2 separate regions of the Homo sapiens genome follow, and region 2 is linked to region 1. Evidence: fine-mapped expression QTL. Tissue or cell type: T cells. Region 1 holds a variant in brackets; the other region holds the start of a gene. All regions are shown on one strand. Distances are between the middles of the regions.

Region 1 (8,106 bases):
TACGTGAGTGAGGAGGGGAGTGCGTGAGTGAGGAGGGGAGTGAGTGAGTGCATGGGTAGAGGAGTGAGTGAGTGCATGGGTAGAGGAGTGAGTGAGTGAGGAGAGGAGTGAGTGAGTGCATGGGTAGAGGAGTGCGTGAGTGAGGAGAGGAGTGAGTGAGTGCATGGGTAGAGGAGTGAGTGAGTGCATGGGTAGAGGAGTGAGTGAGTGAGGAGAGGAGTGAGTGAGTGAGGAGAGGAGTGAGTGAGTGAGGAGAGGAGTGCGTGAGTGAGGAGGGGAGTGAGTGAGTGCATGGGTAGAGGAGTGAGTGAGTGCATGGGTAGAGGAGTGAGTGAGGAGAGGAGTGAGTGAGTGAGGAGGGGAGTGAGTGAGTGAGGAGGGGAGTGAGTGAGTGAGGAGGGGAGTGAGTGAGTGAGGAGGGGAGTGAGTGAGTGAGTGAGGAGGGGAGTGCGTGAGTGAGGAGAGGAGTGAGTGAGTGCATGGGTAGAGGAGTGAGTGAGTGAGGAGAGGAGTGAGTGAGTGAGGAGAGGAGTGAGTGAGTGAGGAGAGGAGTGAGTGAGTGAGGAGAGGAGTGAGTGAGTGAGGAGAGGAGTGCGTGAGTGAGGAGAGGAGTGAGTGAGTGCATGGGTAGAGGAGTGAGTGAGTGCATGGGTAGAGGAGTGAGTGAGTGCATGGGTAGAGGAGTGAGTGAGTGAGGAGAGGAGTGAGTGAGTGAGGAGAGGAGTGAGTGAGTGAGGAGGGGAGTGAGTGAGTGAGGAGGGGAGTGAGTGAGGAGGGGAGTGAGTGAGTGAGGAGGGGAGTGAGTGAGTGAGGAGGGGAGTGAGTGAGTGAGGAGGGGAGTGAGTGCATGGGTAGAGGAGTGAGTGAGTGAGGAGAGGAGTGAGTGCATGGGTAGAGGAGTGAGTGAATGAGCCGCCTCCCTCGCTTCTCTGCCGGCCCACACCTCAGCCACCCTCTAAACCCAGCTCCTTGATCCCCCTTCCTGCCCTTTGGGAATTCCATCCACCCTGAGATCCCAGAGTCATCCTGCTGCCACACTCACGAGGTCCTGGTTGACCCCAAAACCATTTCTGTTTTGGGGGTTGTGGAAAGTACTGAAGGCGGCGGCAGTTGTCATAGAAGGCATAGGTCCAGGCCAGGAAGCCGGCCAGGAGCCGGGAGGCCCCAGCCAGCAGCAGGAGCAGCCACGGGAATGCTGCCACCTGCCCGAGGCCCAGCCAGGACAGGCTCAGCTGCGGCATCCTGCAGGGCAGACAGGATGGAGGGTGAGATCCTGAGGCCCAGGGAAAGTCTCAGGGAGCTCCAGGGACAGTGGAGAGAAGCAGGGAAGGGGTGGGTGGAGGCAGGAAAGGGAGGGCTCTGGGATGAATAAACAAGGACTGAGAGCTAAATTCCAGAAAGCCCCAGCCAAATCCAATAGCCAAGTGGCCTCTAGTTGCCTAGTAACCACCCAGAAAGGAGAAGAGAGAGAGAGACTGATTAGAGTCCAGAAAGGCCCAGCCTGAATCACTGGGAGGTTGCCAGGGGTCCGGTTACCAGGAAACCACCAGTCTCCCAGGCCAGCAGCCTGGAGACACCCCAGCCTTGGGCAGTGCCCCTCCCCATCCCAGGCCAGGAGGCTCCAGTCTGACCACCCCCAGCCTGGCACCTTCTGTCAGGAGCAGCTTGTACCACACAACCTCCTCTCCTCTTCTGCTGGGAGTTCTTTGCCTCTGGCCCCTGATTTAGGGAAAGGTCGTGGGAGGCTGGGCTGCGCTGGGCTGGGCCAGTCAATCTCCACAGCCTGGGTGCATCTCCCTTGCCTGGGAGATGCCGGCCAAAACCTGGGGTTTGGCCAGCTGGGTGCAGAGGAACCAGCTCAGGGTGCCCCAGTATGGGGACTGGATCCTCAGGTCTCAGCATCTCCCTCACAGTTTAGAGGGGAAGTTGGGGAGTGGTTAAAGGGGACTCTGAGCCCCAAGTTTACAGCCACCCTGCCCTTTCAAGGCAAGGATGTGGCAGGTAAAAGCATGAACTTGAGAGTTCACAGCCACCTGAGCTGGGCCAGGCCAACCCTTGTCCCAGATCATCTGGGCTCCTCTCCAAACATGGGCGGGGAGGATGTCAGGTGCTGCATCTTGGTACAGACTTAGGAGATTCAGAGACAGAAGCCTCTCATCTCTGGCTTCACAGCCTGGCAAGAGTTCAAGTCCTGCCTCCAGGCAGCCCAGGGCCTGAGCTGAGACCTGACTGCTTGAAGCAGGAAGAAAGAATCCAGTCCCAACCCTGCTGAGGATTACCTGGGTCAGAGTCTGGGGATAAAGAGCCCAGCTGGAGGAGCAAATCTAGAGGCTGGGCTCAGCTTAGAGGACAGAGCAGAGGCATAGGGGATGAGGCTGAGAGGGGCTGTGAGCAGACGGGGTCCAGGCAGGGGAGGGCAGAGCGAGGGGACCCCGAGTGTAGTCCTTGTTCTGACCTGTCCTTTCTCTGACTGTGGGCAATGTGGCCATCCTGGGCTCAGGCTTCCCATCTGGGAAATGGGATGTCAGATGAGGCCTTAGAGGGCGACAGAGGAAGGCTCCTAAGAAGAGAGAGCTCCAAAAAGAGGGACTGAAGGGAAGGGGATGACAACTAGCACTTGAGCTGCTGTGTGCCTGTCTCTACTCCATGCGAAAGACTGTATGGAAAACACTACTGTGTGTACCTACTGCGTGCCAGTCTCACTATATAAAGTGCACCTACTGTGTATCAGGTACTCTACATAAATTCTGTCTACTATGTGCCAGGTACACCACATAAACCTCACCTACTGTGTGCAGCATGCTCTACATAATGTAAGCTTACTTTGTGCAGAGTACTTTATACAAAGCGTGCCTACTCTGTGCCACATGCCATATATAAAGCATACCTACTGTGTGCCAGGTGCTCCACATAAAGAGTGTCTACTGTATGCTGGGCGCCCTTCACAAATCCTGTATCTTGAGTCCCTGGTCCTTTATATAAACCATGCCTGCTGTGTGCCAGGTGTTCTAAATAAAGCACACCTATTGTGTGCCAGATGTCCTACATAAAATGTTCCTCCTGTATGTTGGGCCCCGTACATAAAATAAAACTGCTCTGTGCAACATACTTGACATAAAGCACACATACTATGTGCCAGGTACACTACATAAAGACCACCTACTGTGTGCCAGGTATGCCACATAAAGTGTGCCTACTATGTGTTAGGTACTCCACGTAAAGTACACCTACTGTGTGCCAGGTGCTCTACATAAAGTGCACCTACTGTGTGTCAGGTGCTCTACGTAAACCACACCTGCTTGTATCAGATGCCCAGCTGGATGACAACGCCCAAAGCTGTCCCACTACCCTCCCATCAGCTCTCTAGGCCAGAGTCCCGGGGATTGTTGGAGAGACCCAAATGATGGCATCCAGAGGAGGGAAGATGTCCATTTAACATAAAAGCAAACTGAGGCTCAGAGAGGCCAGGCCTCTAGCCCAAGTTGCAGAGCTCACAGGAACTCAGGTCTATGAGACCCTCAAGTCCAAATCCTTTCCTTCTGCCGTGCTGCTCCACCCCCATTCATTAGGGTCAATGCCATATTAATACAGGGACATTTATAATGGAGGAATTTCAGGCAGCGTGGTGGCCCAGAGGGGAGCTATCTGGAGGCTGTTGAATCAGCACCTGGCTCCTCCTCCCACACCCAGGATGCTCCACCCAACAGATCCAGGGCTCTCCTCCTGGCCCTCCCTGGATCCTGTCCAGAATTGCCCTATGGGGTAGACTCGGGAGAAGGGGGTCTTGAAGGATGGGG[C/T]TCCTAGCAGAGCTGCTGAGCAGGAGGGTGGGGAAGACAGTGCTCCTGACACTAGCTGGGTGTTGGGGAGCCCCTAGACCTCCCCCACCCCACCACCACTGCCAGCTCAATCAGCCAGGGGATTCAGGCTGAAGGGGGCCAGCCCCTCCACCCCTGTGGGTATTTCTCGTCAGGTGGTACGAGAGACTGAGAAAAGAAATAAGACACAGAGATAAAGTATAGAGAAAGAACAGTGGACCCAGGGGACTGGCACACTCAGCATGCGAGGACCTGTACCGGTGCCGGTCTCTGAGTTCCCTCAATATTTATTGATTACTATTTTCACTGTCTCAGCAAGGGGAGTGCGAGGGAGAAGAGGGTGAACAGGGTGATGATGGGGAGAAGGTCAGCAGGGAAACGTGTGAGTAACAGAATCTGTGTCATGAATAAGTTCAAGGGAAGGTACTGTGCCTGGATGTGCACATGGGCTACATTTATGTTTCTCTTTACCCAAACATCTCAGTGTAGCAAAGAGTAACAGAGCAGTATTGCCACCAGCATATCTCGCCTCCAGCCACAGGGCGGTTTTCTCCTATCTCAGAATAGAATGAACAGTCAGATTTATACTGAGACATTCCCTTCCCAGGGACATGTGGGAAACAGAGGCCTTCCTCTTATCTCAACCACAAAGAGGCTTTCCTCTTTCACTACTCCTCCTCAGCACAGACCCTTTACGGGTGTCGGGCTGGGGACAGTAAAGTCTTTCCCTTCCCACGAGGCCATATCTCAGGCTGTCTCGGTGCGGGGAAACCTTGGACAATACCCAGGCTTTCTTGGGCAGAGGTCCCTGTGGCTTTCCGTGTCCCTGGTTAATAGAGAATGGAGAATGGCGATGACTTTTATCAAGCATACTGTCTGCAAACATATTGTTAACAAGGCACATGCCGCACAGCCCTAAATACCTTAAAACTTGATTCAATACAGCACATGTTTCTGTGAGCACAGGGTTGGGGCTAAAGTTACAGATTAACAACAGTATCTCAAAGCAGAACAATTTTTCTTTGTACAGATCAAAATGGAGTTTCTTATGTCTTCCTTTTTCTACATAGACACAGTAACAGTCTGATCTCTCTTTCTTTTCCCCACATCAGGCAGCTGGACTTACAGCCCCCAGTAAGTGGGGTGCATCACCCAATATACCCACCCCCTCTGCAAGGACAGACCTCACCTGCTGGCAGTTCCATTCCTGTCAGACTCAGGGAGCAAGGCCAGAGTTTCATGAACAGGTGGGCAGATTGCTTTGAGCCCAGGAGTTGGAGACCAGCCTGATCCACAAGGCAAAACCGTGTCTCTATAAAAAATACAAAAACTGGTCTCAAACAAACAAACAAACAAACAAACAAAAAACAAAAACAAAAACTGGCCGGGCGCAGTGGCTCACACCTGTAATCCCAGCACTTTGGGAAGCCAAGGCAGGCGGATCACGAGGTCAGGAGATCGAGACCATCCTGGCTAACACTGTGAAACCCCATCTCTACTAAAAATACAAAAAAATTAGCTGGGCCTGGTGGCGGGTGCCTGTAGTCCCAGCTACTTGGGAGGCTGAGGCAGGAGAATGGCGTGAACCTGGGAGGCCGAGCTTGCACTGAGCCGAGATCGCACCACTGCACTCCAGCCTTGGGGACAAAGCAAGACTCCATCTCACAAAAAACAAAACTGAACTAAACAAAAACTAAACTAGCCAGGCATGGTGGCATGTGCCTGTGGTCCCAGCTACTCAGGAGGCTGAGGCTGGAGAATCGCTTGAACCCATAAGGCAGAGGTGCTGTGAGCCGAGATTTCACCACTGCATTCCAGCCTGGGTGACAGAGTGAGACACTGTCTCAAAAAAAAAAAAAAAAAAAAAATCTAGATTGCAATTACTTTCTTTAAGCACATGGAAAAGGACATCTATAGTCTTCCAGATTTTACTTTTGGCATTGAAAAGTTAGCTGTCCATCTCCTTAGAATTAATCTCTCTCTTTACTCCCCTCTTCTTAACTACTGTTATTTTTTTCTCTCTTTTTTTTTCTGAAGTTTTAACACAATGTGTTACGGTGTGGATTTCTCTTTATGGTTGCTTGGGGTTCATTGAGGTTCTCGAATCTAAACTGTTTTCAATCAGTTTTAGAAAAATCTTGGCCACAATTTCTTCAAACAATGCCTGTGCCCTATTTTTTATTTTACTTCTGAAATTCTAATTAAACAAAGGTTACACTTTCTCATTCTGACCCTAATGTTTTCTTCCCTCTCTTTTATTTTTATTTATTTGTTTGTTTGTTTGTTTGTTTTGAGACAGAGTCTCACCCTGTTGCCCAGGTTGGCGTGCAGTGGCACCATCCCGCTCACTGCAACCTTCACCTCTCGAGCTCACACGATTCTCCTGCCTCAGCCTCCCAAGTAGCTGGGATTACAGGTGTTCACCACCACATCTGACTAATTTTTTTTATTATACTTTAAGTTTTAGGGTACATATGCACAACATGCAGGTTTGTTACATATGTATACATGTGCCATGTTGGTGTGCTGCACCCATTAACTCGTCATTTAACATTAGATATATCTCCTAATGCTATCCCTCCACCCACCCCACAACAGTCCCTGGTGTGTGATGTTCTCCTTCCTGTGTCCATGTGTTCTCATTGTTCAGTTCTCACCTATGAGTAAGAACATGCGGTGTTTGGTTTTTTGTTCTTGCGATAGTTTGCTGAGAATGATGGTTTCCAGCTTCATCCATGTCCCTACAAAGGACATGAACTCGTCATTTTTTATGGCTGCATAGTATTCCATGGTGTATATGTGCCACATTTTCTTAATCCAGTCTATCATTGTTGGACATTTGGGTTGGTTCCAAGTCTTTGCTATTGTGAATAGTGCCGCAATAAACATACGTGTGCATGTGTCTTCATAGCAGCATGTTTTATAATCCTCTGGGTATATACCCAGTAATGGGATTGTTGGGTCAAATGATATTTCTAGTTCTAGATCCCTGAGGAATTGCCACACTGGCTTCCACAATGGTTGAACTAGTTTACAGTCCCACCAACAGTGTAAAAGTGTTCCTATTTCTCCACATCCTCTCTAGCACCTGTTGTTTCCTGACTTTTTAATAATCGCCATTCTAACTGGTGTGAGATGGTATCTCATTGTGGTTTTGATTTGCATTTCTCTGATGGCCAGTGATGACGAGCATTTTTTCATGTGTCTTTTGGCTGCATAAATGTCTTCTTTTGAGAAGTGTCTGTTCATATCCTTCACCCACTTTTTGATGGGGTTGTTTGTTTTTTCTTGTAAATATGTTGGAGTTCATTGTAGATTCTGAGCTTTGTTCTTTTGGCTTAGGATTGACTTGGCAATGTGGGCTCTTTTTTGGTTCCATATGAACTTTAAAGTAGTTTTTTCCAATTCTGTGAAGAAAGTCATTGGTAGCTTGATGGGGATGGCATTGAATCTATAAATTACCTTGGGCAGTATGGCCATTTTCACAATATTGATTCTTCCTACCCATGAGCATGGAATGTTCTTCCATTTGTTTGTATCCTCTTTTATTTCATCGAGCAGTGGTTTGTAGTTCTCCTTGAAGAGGTCCTTCTATCTGATCTTTGACAACATGACAAAAACAAGAAATGGGGAAAGGATTCCCTATTTAATAAATGGTGCTGGGAAAACTGGCTAGCCATATGTAGAAAGCTGAAACTGGATCCCTTCCTTACACCTTACACAAAAATTAATTCAAGATGGACTAAAGACTTAAATGTTAGACCTAAAACCATAAAAACCCTAGAAGAAAACCTAGGCAATACCTTTCAGTACATAGGCATGGGCAAGGACTTCATGTCTAAAACACCAAAAGCAACGGCAACAAAAGCCAAAATTGACAAATGGGATATAATTAAACTAAAGAGCTTCTGCACAGCAAAAGAAACTACCATCAGAGTGAACAGTCAACCTACAGAATGGGAGAAAATTTTTGCAATCTACTCATCTGACAAAGGGCTAATATCCAGAATCTACATCTGACTAATTTTTGTATTTTGAGTAGAGATGGGGTTTCGCCATGTTGGCCAGGCTGGTCTTGAGCTCCTGAACTCAAGTGATCCACCTGCCTCAGCCTCCCAGAGTGCTGGGATTACAGGCATGAGCCACCGCGCCCGGCCCCCAACTCACTAATTCTCTCTTCAATTGTGTCTGACATGCATTAAACTTCTCCTGGGATATTAATATTGTAGCTTTGGTTCTAAAAATTATATATCTTTTTTTTCAAATCAACCCTGCCGCTCTTTACAATGCT
Region 2 (8,106 bases), 110 kb before region 1:
AGTGAGGAAGATTGCATGGTGTGGGCTCTGGTGATGGTGACCAAGAGACATCTAGGAGTGCAAGCTGGGCTTGGGTTTCTGGAAAGAGGATGGATCTTCAGAGTTTATTTCATGTTAGACTGAGGAGTCCTCAGAGCTTGTGTGGTTTTCAAGGGTGTTTTTCCTTCTCTCCAGGATGAAGATGGGAAGGAGTTGTCTGATGAGGACATAAGAGTGTAGGCTGACACCTTCATGTTTGAGGGAGAGGATCCCAGTGAGGACCAAGATGTCTCATCCCAGGGACGTGGTGGGTGGACCCTGGATGGCTTCACCCTTCCCATCCCCCTTCCCCCATCCTCTCTGAGGCCCTCAATCCATGGGTGCTGTCCACCCTGTTGTGCTGAAGCAGCCCAGAGACCCAAGACTGCCTGGCTGCCCCTCAGGCTATGACACCAGGACCAGTGGTCTCTCCTGGGTCCAGTACAACCTTGCAATGCACCCAGAATGCCAGGAGCGCTGCGGGCAGGAAAGGCAAGAGTTTCTGAAGGTCTGGGAGCCTAAAGAGATTGAATGGTGAGTGCAGGTGCTGGTGGCTGTTCCTGAGCTCCATGACTCATGTTGGCAATGCCGATGGCTCTGCTCCCCAGGTGGGGATGGGAGGAGGAGTTGTTTTTGTCTATTCTGCTACTATTGCTTAGTGGGAGTAGGAGTAGAGGATGACAGGCAAGGCTTAATACCCAGTCTGGCTATCAGGGGAGAAGTTGCAGGCTGTTTGGACAGCAAAGATCTGCTCTGCTGAGAGAATTGGTGACAACATGTGAGGGGAGATGATGCCACTTAACACATGTTTAGTAGATGAACTTCCCCTTTACTCCCTTCTTTTTATCCCTGAAATGTCATTTTGCATGCATAATCTGTTTTCGTTATTGCAACAACCTTGTGAGGTGCTGCTGCTGAAACGCCCATTTACGGACGTGAAGGAGCACAGCCTGGTGGTGAGGGGGGCACAATGTGAGGCTGGGTGGGTGGTCTGGGTGCACAGCCCAGATCCACCAGCTCTATGACTGTGGGTAGTCACTCAAATATTTTCCAGACTGGATTTCTCATTTGTAAAATGGAAAAACAAAATGGTTAATATAGTTAAAAGACTTAAAACAGGCTCCATGACTCATGTTGGCAATGTCGATGGCCGCCATTCCTGCTCTAACCTGCTTGCCCATCCCAGGCACACAGGAGGTCTGCAGTGAGCTGAGCCCCTCTAGCCACTGGGGGCACTTTCTTCTGTGTCCCTAGGACCCTGCCTGTTCATCAACCCCTGGCTTTGCTCCCTGAGCCTAAGAAGGATGGAACCACCAGCAGGTGAGGTCTGTCCTTGCAGAGGTAGTGGGGATTTTGGGGGATGCACCCTACGCGAATGAAGCTGTAGGACCAGGTGCCTGAATCCCCTGGCTGATTGAGCTGGCAGGGGTGGTGGGGTGGGGGTGGTCTAGGGGCTCCCCAGTACCCAGCCAGTGTCAGGAGTACTGTCTTCCCCACCCTCCTGCTCAGCAGTTCTGCTAGGAGCCCCCTCCTTCAAGCGCCCCCCTCACCTGAGTCCACCCCACAGGACAATTCAGGACAGGATCTAGGGAGGGCCAGGAGGGGAGCCCTGGATCTGTTGGGAGGAGAATCCTGCATGTGGGAGAAGGAGCCAGGTGCTGATCCAAGGGCCTCAAGATATTTCCCCTTTGGGGCTATCACACTGCCTGAGATTACTCCATTATAAATGTCCCTATATTAATATGGCATTGACACTAAAGAATGGGGGTGGAGCAGCATGGCAGAGGGAACGGATTTGGACTTGAGGGTCTCATAGTCTTGAGTTCCTATGAGCTCTGCAACTTGGACTAGAGGCCTGCCCTCTCTGAGCCTCAGTTTGCTTTTGTGTTAAATGGACACCTTCTCTCCTCTGGATGCCATCACTCAGGTCTCTTCAACAATGCCCAGGGTTCTGGCCTAGGGAGCTGTTGGGAGGGTGGTGGGACAGCTTTGGGCACTGTGATGCAGGTGAGCATCTGATACAAGCAGGTGCACGTTATATAGAGCACCTGGCACATAGTAGGTGCACCTTATGTAGAGCACCTGGCACACAGTAGGTGTACTTTATGTGGCGTACCTAGCACATAGTAGGTACACTTTATGCGGCATACCTGGCACACAGTAGGTGCTCTTTATGTAGCATATCTGGCACACAATAAGGCACACTTTATATAGTGTACCTGGCACACAGTATGTGTGCTTTATGTCAAGTATGTTGCACCGAGTAGTTTTACTTTATGTAGGGGACCTAACACACGGGAGAAGCATTTTATGTGGAACATCTGGCACACAGTAGGTGTGCTTTATTTAGAGCACCTGGCACACAGCAAGCATGGTTTATATAAAGGGCCAGGGACTCAAGATACAGGATTTGTGAAGGGCTCCCAGCATACAGTAGACAGTATTTATGTGGAGCTCCTGGCACACAGTAGGTGCACTATATGTAGAATAGCCAGCACACAGTAGACAAGATTTATGTAGATTACTTGATGCAGAGTAGGTGCGCTTTCTGTGGGTCACCAGGTACGTAGTACACATGCTCAATGTGGAGCACCTGACACACAGTAGGTATGCTTTATATACAGCACATGGCACAGAGTAGGCACGCTTTATATGAAGTACTCTGCATAAAGTAAGCTTACATTATGTACAGCATGCTGCACACAGTAGGTGAGCTTTATGTGGCATACCTGGCACATAGTAGACAGAATTTATGTACAGTATCTGATACACAGTAAGTGCACTTTATATAGTGAAACTGGCACACAGTAGGTGCACACAGTAGTGCTTTCCGTACAGTCTTTCGCATGGAGTAGAGACAGGCACACAGCAGCTCAAGTGCTAGTTGTCATCCCCTTCCCTTCAGTCCCTCTTTTTGGAGCTCCCTTTTCTTAGGAGCCTTCCTCCGTCGCCCTCTAAGGCCTCATCTGACATCCCATTTCCCAGATGGGAAGCCTGAGCCCAGGATGGCCACACTGCCCACAGTCAGAGAAAGGACAGGGCAGAACAAGGACTCCACTCGGGATCCCCTTGCTCTGCCCTCCCCTGCCTGGACCCCGTCAGCTCAAGGCCCCTCTCAGCCTCATCCCCTGTGCCTCCGCTCTGTCCTCCTAAGCTGAGCCCAGCTTCTAGGTTTGCTCCTCCAGCTGGGCTCTTTATCCCCAGAATCTGACGAAGGTAATCCTCAGCGGGGTTGGGGCTGGATTCTTTCTTCCTGCTTCAAGCAGTCAGGCCTCAACTCAGGCCCTGGGCTGCCAGGAGGCAGGACTTGAACTCTTGCCAGGCTGTGAAGCCAGAGATGAGAGGCTTCTGTCTCTGAATCTCCTAAGTCTGCACCAAGATGTAGTGCCTGACATCCTCCCCGCCCATGTTTGGAGAGGAGCCCAGATGATCTGGGACAAGGGTTGGCCTGGCCCAGCTCAGCTGGCTGCCAACTGTCATGATAAGTATATGCTTTTATCTGAACACCCTTGTCTTGGAAGGGCAGGGTGGAGGTAAACTTGGGGTTCAGAGTCCCCTCTAACCACCCTCCAACTTCCCCTGCAAACTCCCAAGAAGGTACTGAGACCTGAGAATTCAGTGCTCGTGCTGGGGCACCCTGAGCTGCACCCAGTGGGCCCAACCCCAGGTTTTGGCTGGCTGCCCAGGCACGGAAGACACACCCAGGCTGTGGGGATTGGCTGCCTCAGCCCAGCCCAGCCCAGCCCCGCCTCCTACGGCCTTCCCTAGATCAGGGGCCAGGGCCAAAGACCTCCCAGCAGAAGAGGAGAAGAGGTTGTGTGGGACAAGCTGCTCCCGACAGAAGGTACCAGGCTGGGGGTGGCAGGGCTGGAAGGTCCTGGCCTGGGATGAAGAGGGGACTGCCTAAGGCTGGGGTGGCTCCAAGATGCTGGCATGGGAAACTGGGGGTTTCCTGGTAACTGGACTCCTAGCAAACTCCCAAGGATTCAGGTGGGGCCCTTCTGGACTCTAATCGGCCCATCTCTTTCCCTTTCTGTGTGGTTACCAGGTTACTGGAGGCCACTTAGTTGTTGGTTTTGGTTGGGACTTTCTGGACTTCAGATCTCAGCCCTCGTTTACTCACCCCTGAGCCCTCCCTGCCCTGCCCCCAGCAGTTCCTGACTTCGCCCCTATACACTGTCCCCGGAGCTCTTCCCTGGGCCTCAGGTCCTCACCCTGCATCCCCTCTGCCCTGCAGGATGTCGCTGCTGAGCCTGCCCTGGCTGGGCCTCAGACCGGTGGCAACGTCCCCATGGCTACTCCTGCTGCTGGTTGTGGGCTCCTGGCTACTCGCCCGCATCCTGGCTTGGACCTATGCCTTCTATAACAACTGCCGCCGGCTCCAGTGTTTCCCACAGCCCCCAAAACGGAACTGGTTTTGGGGTCACCTGGGCCTGGTGAGTGTGACAGCAAAATGTGTCTGGGGTCTCAGGGTGGATGGACTTCCAGAGGAGCAGGAATGGGGCTCAGTGAGCTAGGTATTGATGGTGGCTGGGGTCTGCGACCCCAGAGAAGCAAGAGAGATGGCTCACTCATTCCTCTGCTAACTCACTCATTCCTCTACCCACTCACTCCTCTACCCACTCACTCACTCCTCTACCCACTCACTCACTCCTCTACCCACTCACTCATTCCTCTACCCACTCACTCATTCCTCTACCCACTCACTCCTCTACCCACTCACTCACTCCTCTACCCACTCACTCACTCCTCTCCTCACTCACTCATTCCTCTCCTCACTCACTCATTCCTCTACCCACTCACTCACTCCTTTCCTCACTCACTCACTCCTCTCCTCACTCACTCATTCCTCTCCTCACTCACTCATTCCTCTCCTCACTCACTCATTCCTCTACCCACTCACTCACTCCTCTACCCACTCACTCAATCCTCTACCCACTCACTCACTCCTCTACCCACTCACACATTGCCCTCCTCACTCACTCATTCCTCTCCTCACTCACTCATTCCCCTCCTCACTCATTCCTCTCCTCACTCACTCATTCCTCTACCCACTCACTCATTCCTCTCCTCACTCACTCATTCCTCTACCCACTCACTCATTCCTCTCCTCACTCACTCATTCCTCTCCTCACTCGCGCATTCCTCTCATTCGCGCATTCCTCTCATTCACTCATTCCTCTCCTCACTCACTCATTCCTCTCCTCACTCTTATTCGTCTGCTCACTCACTCATTCCTCTGCTCACTCATTCCTCTCCTCATTCACTCCTTCCCCTCATCACTCACTCATTCCTCTGCCCACTCACTCATTCCTCTACCCATTCACTTATTCCTCTATCCACTCACTTTTTGCTCTCCCCACTCACTCATTCCTCTCCTCACTCACTCATTCCTCTCCTCATTCACTGATTCCTCTACCCACCGACTCATTCCTTTCCTCATTCATTCATTCCTCTGCAGTTCCATGCCAAACCTTTCTCACCTCCCTGTCCTCCCACCTCAGCCTGCTTGGATCCTTTTCCTGCCTGTCTTCCCTACCGTAGTGCCCCTCCCAGAGGCTCCTGTATGGTTGTGGGGTGCACAGAGCAGGGCTCTCCTGGCATTCCCACCTTCTCCACTGCTGGACTTGAAGCCTTCTGAGCCCCGATAGACAGGCTGCTCCCTGCATGGCCCATTTGCTTGTATCTGCCCATCTCTGGGCTGCTGCTTTCCCGCAGGAATTATCTCTGACTTCCTTCCCCACGGAGGGACACAGCTGGACCAGAAGAGAAGTGCAGGCAGTCTCCCACACCCTCTCCTTCCAGGGACAATGTGCTCTTCCCCAGTAAGATGTCCCAGTGAGCCCTGTAGCCCAACCTGGATATAATTTGGCCACTCCCTTCCCCTTTCAGAAGCCGTCCTTGGTACTCCCAAACCTTTCCCTCCGACTGGGACCGGCCCTCCCCTTTGGGGGATGTGGCCTCTGTCTGCTCACTTACAAAAGGCAGGATTGATCGGTGTGTCCACAGGTGCACAGGAGGCACTAGCACAGAACCTGGCATAAGTGAGGCTCTCCTAGGTGGGAGCTGCCATCCTGATGGACATTAGAGTCACCTCTGCTCCCCTGGAGGCTGCTGAGAATGGAGGGCCCTCAGGACGCAGGCCCTTTGTCTGTGGGAGGAACCAGTGCCCATGTGGACCAACCAGGACACAAAAGGATATGGCAACCAGCTCTAGGGATATGTCCTGAGGCCACACTGCTGCCCACAAACCTCCTTCCATGGGGACCTTCCCATATAGCAATCCCCAGATTGAAATCAATCCAGGATGAGAAAACACATCCTCTTGAGCAGACAGCTTGTCTTCTCTCTCTGCTTTGGTATTTACCCTTGGATCTTGGGGACAGCTCCAAGAGAGAAGGAGCAGAAGTCAGCAGAAACCCACTGCAGCTGCTGAGAATCCAGACACGCTGCTCACTGCAGAGGCTGCACCACATCCGGTGGCTGTGGGGGGACTTGCTGTGGCTTCATCTAGGGAGGTGCATTAGTCAGGGTTCTCCCTAGAAACGGAATCTCCTTAGAAACAGATAGGGTGTTTCTTCTTATCTCTAATGCATGTATGTATGGAGACAGAAAGAGATAGAGAGATAAGAATTTATTATGGGAATTGGATAATGTGATGATGGAGGCCAAGAAGTCCCATGATATATCATCTGCAAGCCAGAAACCAGGGACACTGGTGGTGTAAATTCAGCCTGAGTCCAGAAAGGCCTGAGTCCCTGGAGTTCTGAGGGCAGGAGAAGACGGATATCCCAGCAGCAGAAGAGAGAGCAAGTTCTTCCTTTCCTCTGCCTTTTGTCCTGTTCATGCCCTCAATGGATTGGATGGGGTCTGGCGTCTCAGGGTGGGTGGACTTCCAGAGGGGTGGGACTTCCAGTAGGGGTTCAGGGAGCTGTGTATTGATGGTGGCTGGGGTCTGGGAACCCAGAGAACCAAGGGAGACGGCTCACTCATTCCTCTCCTCACTTACTCATTCCTGTGCCCATTCACTCATTCCTCTCCTCACTCACTCATTCTAATACCAACTCACTCATTCCTCTCCTCACTCACTCATTCCTCTCCTCACTCACTCATTCCTGTGCCCATTCACTCATTCCTCTCCTCACTCACTCATTCCTCTCCTCATTCAGTCATTCCTGTCCTCACTCACTCATTCCTTTTCTCACTCATTCATTCCTCTCCTCACCCACTCATTCCTCTGCCCACTCACTCATTCATATCCTCACTCACTCATTCCTCTACCCACACTCATTCCTCTCCTCACTAATTCCAATACCAACTCACTCATTCCTCTCCTCACTTACTCATTCCTCTATCCATTCACTCATTCCTCTCCTCACTCACTCATTCCTCTGCTCACTTAGTCATTCCTCTCCTCACTCAACTCATTCCTCACTCACTCATTCCTCTCCTCACTCACTCATTCCCCTCCTCACTCACTCATTTCTCTCCTCACTCATTCATTCCTTTACCCACTCACTCATTCCTCTACCCACTCACTCATTCCTCTCCTCACTCATTCCCTTCCTCCCATTCCTTTACCCACTCACTCATTCCTCTCCTCACTCACTCATTCCTCTCCTCACTTACTCATTCCTCTCCCCACTCACTCATTCCTCTCCTCACTCACTCATTCCTGTGCCCATTCACTCATTCCTCTCCTCACTCACTCATTCCAATACCAACTCACTCATTCCTCTCCTCACTCACTCATTCCTCCCCTCATTCAGTCATTCCTGTCCTCACTCACTCATTCCTCTCCTCACTCACTCATTCCTCTGCTCACTCACTCATTCATATCCTCACTCACTCATTCCTCTACCCACACTCATTCCTCTCCTCACTAATTCCAATACCAACTCACTCATTCCTCTCCTCACTTACTCATTCCTCTACCCATTCACTCATTCCTCTCCTCACTCACTCATTCCTCTGCTCACTTAGTCATTCCTCTCCTCACTCAACTCATTCCTCTGCTCACTTAGTCATTCCTCTCCTCACTCAACTCATTCCTCACTCACTCATTCCTGTCCTCACTCACTCATTCCT

Evidence for each region. PIP is the estimated chance that this variant, and not a neighbour inherited with it, causes the effect.
Region 2: CYP4F12 starts here. The variant in region 1 is fine-mapped to the expression of CYP4F12 in T cells (TOPMed, PIP above 0.99). The same link has a PIP of 0.9 or more in blood mononuclear cells.

What each region holds. Positions count from the first base shown.
Region 1 is chr19:15,778,671-15,786,776 of GRCh38, forward strand. It overlaps the pseudogene CYP4F24P. Among named protein-coding and RNA genes, the nearest start is that of OR10H5, 4.9 kb to the right of the region's middle. The variant C/T (reference allele first, on the strand shown) is at 3,798.
Region 2 is chr19:15,669,274-15,677,379 of GRCh38, forward strand. It overlaps CYP4F12 (cytochrome P450 family 4 subfamily F member 12), which reads left to right and starts at 3,814. Exons shown (of 13, transcript NM_023944.4): 1 at 3,814-3,862; 2 at 4,256-4,454. The coding sequence starts at 4,257.